2 separate regions of the Homo sapiens genome follow, and region 2 is linked to region 1. Evidence: fine-mapped expression QTL. A gene starts in region 1. The other region holds a variant in brackets. All regions are shown on one strand. Distances are from middle to middle. Region 1 holds the start of BMAL2-AS1 (BMAL2 antisense RNA 1). Region 2 overlaps BMAL2 (basic helix-loop-helix ARNT like 2).

Region 1 (2,922 bases):
TTTAACAATGAGTAACAACTTCTGGGAGGAGGGTGACTTGTTCAAGGTCCTACAGCTAGTAAGTGGTAAATCAAGAACTTAAGTCCAAAATTTTCTAACCGGAAAGCTAATACTTTCTCTACTTGTTTCTAAAAACATGTATTTAATTGATAACTATTTTTGAGCATCTGCTATGTGTCAGGTACTGTGCTGGAGTGGAGAATGCAAGCATGCGTAAAGATACAGTTCCTGTCCCTGCGGAGCTTGCAGGCCACTTGGCTCTGGTCAGGTGCAATGTGTTAAGTGCTAGGGAAGGTTGCGGTGGCAGCACATAGGAGAGGCACTCGGCTGAGTTTCTGGGGCTCAGACGCGTAAGTCCAGAGAAAGTACATCTACAGAAGCCCGAAAACAGTTTCTCAAATTTTACTGTAAATGTGAATCATTCTAGGATCTTGTTAAAATGTAGGTTCTGATTCAGGAGGTCTGGAGTGAGGCCTAAAGTTCTGCTTTTTTTTTTTTTTTTTGAGACAGAGTCTTGCTCTGTCTCCCAGCCTGCGATCACCACTCACTGCAGCCTTGACCTCCTCCCACCTTAGCCTCCCGAGTAGTTGGGACTACAGATGCGGATCACCATGCCCAGCTAAGTTTTTGTATTTTTTATAGAGACAAGGTTTTGCTGTGTTGCCAGGCTGGTCTCAGGCTCCTGGGCTGAAGCGATCCTCCCACCTTGGCCTCCCAAGGTGCTGGGATTACAGGTGTGAGCCACCGCACCTGGCCGATTCTGCCTTTCTAACAAGCTCCCGAAGAGGCTGTTGCAGCTGGTCCATGGATCACCCTGTTAGTAGTAAGGCTCTGAAGAGCAAGAAAGGGTTAGCCAGGTAGAGAGGTGTGTCGGTGGTGACAGCTTCCCCAGTAAAGATGCAGAATGGGCAAAGCCTTATGGAGAAAAGGATCAAGATCATCTTCAGGGAACTGTGGTTTCCCCAGTAATCCTGGACTGTGGGGCATGAGGTGGTGAGGTAGCTCAAGAAGGGGCTGGAGGTGAAAGTGAAGTAAATGGAAACCCATCATACAGGGCCCCATAAGCCTTGTTAAGGGGCTGTGTCTATTACTGAGGGCAGTGAGATGCCATTCACTGTTTTAAGCTGATGAGTTCCTTTATCGGATCTGTGCTTTCCAAAAAGCACACTGACTACAGTGTGGAAACTGCATTAGAACAGTGTTTTCAATGCTGTCTCCATGTCAGAATCACGTGGGGAACTTTATAAAATGCCAATGCTCAGCCACCGTCCCTAACCCCGACCCCAGACAATTCAAGAGGATCTCTAAGGCAGAAGTTCTTAAAGCATGGTCCCTGGACCAGCATCAGCAAAAGCATCAGGGAACTTGTTAGAAATGCAAATTCCCAGGCCCCCTCCCAGACTTACTGAATCAGGAACTCCGGGAGTGGGCCCAGCAGCCTGAGGTTTAAGAAGCTCCCCAAGGGCCTCAGGTACAGCTAATGTTTGAGAACCACTGGATTAGAGGGAGAAAAGTGGGGAGAGAGAGAGGATACTTGACCAATCAGAAGCAGAGAGATGATGATGTCACAGAACCCACATTGGCTCTTATTAAACTCGAGGATCAACATCATCTTGATAGAGTCCCATAGTGTCTCAAAGTGGGGAGGTTAGGATGCTGGTTAGTCATGGAGTATTTTCAGAGTGGAAGTTGATCAGTGACGTTTTGTCAGGGATTGATCCAATTTATAAACTAGGTAAGTTTCTGTGTTATTGACTGAATTGTTTTTCCCTCCAAATTCATATGTTGAAGACCTACGCCCCAATGTGATGGTATTTGGAGATCAGGCCTTTGGGAGATAATTAAGGTTAGATGAGGTTATGAGGGTGGGGCCCTCATAAATGAGATTAGTGCCCTTATAAGAAGAGGCACCAGAGAGCTTTCTCTCTCCCTCCTCCATCTCTCTCTCCCCTTCCCCTCCTGCTCCCTCTGTTCCCAATCCCTGCTTCCCAACTCCCACCATGTGAGGACACATTAAGAAGGCCACCATTGGCCAGGTGCAGTGGCTCATGCCTGTAATCCTAGCACTTTGGGAGGCTGAGGTGGGTGGATTACGAGGTCAGGAGTTCAAGACCAGCCTGGCCAACATGGTGAAACCCCATCTCTACTAAAAATACAAAAAGTAGCTGGGCGTGTTGGTGGGTGCCTATAATCCCAGCTACTTGGGAGGCTGAGGCAGGAGAATCATTTGAACCTGTGAGGCAGAGGTTACAGTGAGCTGAGATCACGCCATTGCACTCCAGACTGGGCGACAGAGCAAGACTCTGTCTTAAAAAAAAAAGAGAGAGAGAGAAAGAAAAAGAAAAAGAAAAAAAGAAGGCCACCTTCTACAAGCCAGAAAGAGAGCCCTCACCAGAAACAGACCATGCTAGCACTTGATCTTGGACTTCTATTCTCCAGAACTGTGAGAAAATAAATTTCTGTTGTTTAAGCCACCCACTCTGTGGTATTTCGTGATGGCAGCCTGAGCTAAGACACTTGTGGAAAGGTAAGTGGTCTTGCTGGGACACATGGGTCCCTGTGGAGTTAACTGTTAAAATGGTTTGTCTGTGGTCTTATCTTGGGACATGTGGGTCTGAGTGAATTGCAGCTGTAACAAATTGAGCTTATATAGTTTACGTTGCAAGTTTTCAGTTTTGAAATTGTGGCTTTTGTTTCATATTTTAGAATCCTAAACTAAGGCTGTGATATGAATTATTGAAATTCAAAACTCTTAATAGGGTTGTCAGATAAAATATAGAACACCCAGTTAAATTTGAATTTCAAGTAAACAGTAAAAACATGTTTAATATAATTATATGCCAAATAGTGCATGGAATATACTTATTCTAAAAAAAATTCATGGTTTATCTGAAATTCAAATTAAACTGGGTTCCTGTATTT
Region 2 (2,922 bases), 57 kb after region 1:
TGTGGATAGAGCTGGAGGCTATAATCCTAAGTGAATTGATGCAAGAACAGAAAACCAAATACCACATGTTCCCACTTATAAGTAGGAGCTAAACATGGAGCACATAAGGACATAAACACGGGAACAACAGACACTGTGGACTATTAGAGGGGGAAGGGAGGGAAGGGCGTGTGGGTTGAAAAACTATCTACTGGGTACTATGCTCACTACCTTAGTGCAATATACCCATGAAACAAACCTGCACATGTAGTCCCTGTATCTAAAATAAATGTTGAAAATTTTTAAAAAAAGAATAGTGTTTTCATGAGGATTAAAACACTTAGCACAGTATCTGGCACAGGGTTAGCGTTAAATAAATGAGTATTAGCAATTACCGTTTCAGGTGTTTGTCAAAAAAGATTCCGACCAAAACTTAATTGAATTTTTGTGGCTCCATATAAATATCCTTTTAAAGGATAGGAAGGCAAATCCCATGTTAAAATTTGCCTATGGAATCCTATATCTCATAGCTTAATATGCTCTTAGGCAAAAAAGTCATGAGACATTTTGTAGTCCCTGAAATTTCCCAATTAAGTTAAATAGATGACTATTTAATCAATTCAAAAAGTAAATATCTGCAAGAAAAATCTAGCAAAGGATCATAAGAAAACAAATGAGATATTTACCGAAGAATCACCATCTCATAAAAAATTAAAATCACACCTGGAACATCTTAAGAAACTTTCACCAAAATTAGTCAAATCAGGCTCTTGTACTATTGAAGTTTTTTTAACATCTAACCTTTATATTTTAAAATGTAATAATGAAGTTTCACAGCAAAAGTTTTATTTCCATCTCTTGTCATTTTTTTCCCACTTGATAGGCCCCAAACTACAATTTCAATAACACCATTAAAATCTTGGGCAACAAAGATAATATGTAATTACCTGATAAATTCGAAAGATGTGATGAACAAATGTAAGTAATTTTGGTTTAAAAAAATCTTATTTTTAAGATGCTTTTGAATTCAAATATTTCCCTTGACCATATATTTTATTTTTTCTGTACAGAAAATATTTAGGACATTAATTTTATAGCCATGCTTTGCATCACTTGACATTTCAAAATGATACCTTTCTTCTTTGAGTTGGGTAAGCATCCATGCTCTTCTTTGACAGAGATTTTACAACTCTTTATCCGACAGAAAAAAGATCGTCTTGAGCCAGAATACACACGTGTCCTTCCAGCGTGGAGATTACTGTGAACTTGCAAACCAGCTTTCGTGCAGAAGGGGGCGAGAGAATAGGTGGAAAAGAATATTGTCAAATAATTTTGAAATTTATCTCCTAACATTTTCTGACCATCTATTATTGAGAAAGGAAACAGTTTTTTAAAGCAATGGCATGATTGTACAGTAAACCCTGAAGTGAAATATACCCAAAAAATGTATTTGTCAAGCAATCACATTTTGATAACTTACAGACATTTGCAATTTATCTTTCTTTTTTCCTCAAATGGGGAAGAACAAAGTTAATTTAAGTGAAATGAAATAAAAATTAAATTAAAAAATGAAAAAAACCTTAACTATTACAGGAATCAATTGTTTTATATTTTACATAATTATTTGGTACTAGGCATTTTCAGAGAAGAAAAAAATACTTATACTTCCCAAACAC[A/T]ATTATACAAGGTCTTTCATACAGAAAAGACCTAATCCATATAAAAAAGAGAGTAATTGTCTTTTAGCATATAGCTAAATAATGGGAACTTCAGCAATTTTTTATCCAAATGATACTTTCTTGTAAAGATTTTATTTGCATATGAAAAATAGCAAATATGAAGCACTCATATTTTCCCCAAAGCATCTTCATATCAATGAATTTGTGTTTGTATATGTCTGTATGAATATAGGAATTTTCTATATAGCTATATATATTTATTAAGTATGATGTAAAGTTTACAAAACAATTCTCTCTTGATAAAAGCTTAGTTAGCTGTTTTAAAAACACTGTGTAGCTAAACTTTTAGGTGATCATTACATTTACATAAAATAATAAGCATGCGGAAATGGACACTTACTTTTGGCATCTATTAGCTTTTCTCTTGGTGAAATATCAAAAGAAGAAAGTTGTTCCTTTACTTTGGCAACATCTTTTGGATGTAAGAAGTCAAATAAGCTTTGTCCAGTCAAACTAGCCTATTCATAAGGTAGACATTCATTTAAAATCAGTACCATGCTTTTTCTACATTTCTTGATGCATACAATAAATGTTCTTTTTTGATTTTTGATTGATTTTTCTCAAGCTCAAAGATATGTCCACGACACTGTGTGACATGAACTTAATGTTCAAAGCAGGGTGATACTTGTAGACAGAAAAAAATACATGCGTATAGAACCATCCCTGGATATACACAAACCATATACAAACACCAATTGCTAGTATTCTGCTAAATCTTGTAACTCTTGTTAACATGTTACTTGTAAATGATTGTGATTTACTTTGAACTTTTTTTGTCCTTGTTAAAAAAAAGAGATTACATCATAGTATAATATAGAAATCACAGAATATCTGTGACTTTATCAGATATTTACCATACAGTTTAAAAAATTACCATACTATTGATAGGTAAAATCCAACCCAGAATACCTCTCACTTCCCATTCCACCACTCCCAAAAGGCACAGCATCCCCAGGTCTATGCCTTTGCTGATACAGTCCCACCCCTCAGAATTCATCACCCCTTCCCTATCCCTTGGCCACTCCAGCCAAATTGCCTTTGACTCCCTAGACTTCCGGGACTCCCTTCTCCCAGGTTGAAATGTTTCCTCCCCTTCTCTACACCTTCCTTCTGACAAGCCTGGCAGACATCCTACTTCATGTGTGACGCCTTCCTGACCCACAGTGGCCACCCCTCTTCTGAATTCCTGTATTACCCAAGCAAACAT

What was found. PIP is the estimated chance that this variant, and not a neighbour inherited with it, causes the effect.
Region 2: its variant is fine-mapped to the expression of BMAL2-AS1 in sun-exposed skin (GTEx, PIP above 0.99).

The regions. Positions count from the first base shown.
Region 1 is chr12:27,445,310-27,448,231 of GRCh38, reverse strand. BMAL2-AS1 (BMAL2 antisense RNA 1) reads left to right here and starts at 1,598. Exons shown (of 4, transcript NR_109975.1): 1 at 1,598-1,735. It overlaps SMCO2 (single-pass membrane protein with coiled-coil domains 2), which reads right to left and starts at 1,496. Exons shown (of 9, transcript NM_001395208.2): 1 at 1,407-1,496.
Region 2 is chr12:27,388,430-27,391,351 of GRCh38, reverse strand. BMAL2 (basic helix-loop-helix ARNT like 2) reads right to left here. Exons shown (of 17, transcript NM_020183.6): 8 at 2,056-2,173; 9 at 1,113-1,256. BMAL2-AS1 (BMAL2 antisense RNA 1) reads left to right here. Exons shown (of 4, transcript NR_109975.1): 3 at 863-957; 4 at 1,184-1,563. Among named protein-coding and RNA genes, the nearest start is that of BMAL2-AS1, 57 kb to the left of the region's middle. The variant A/T (reference allele first, on the strand shown) is at 1,656.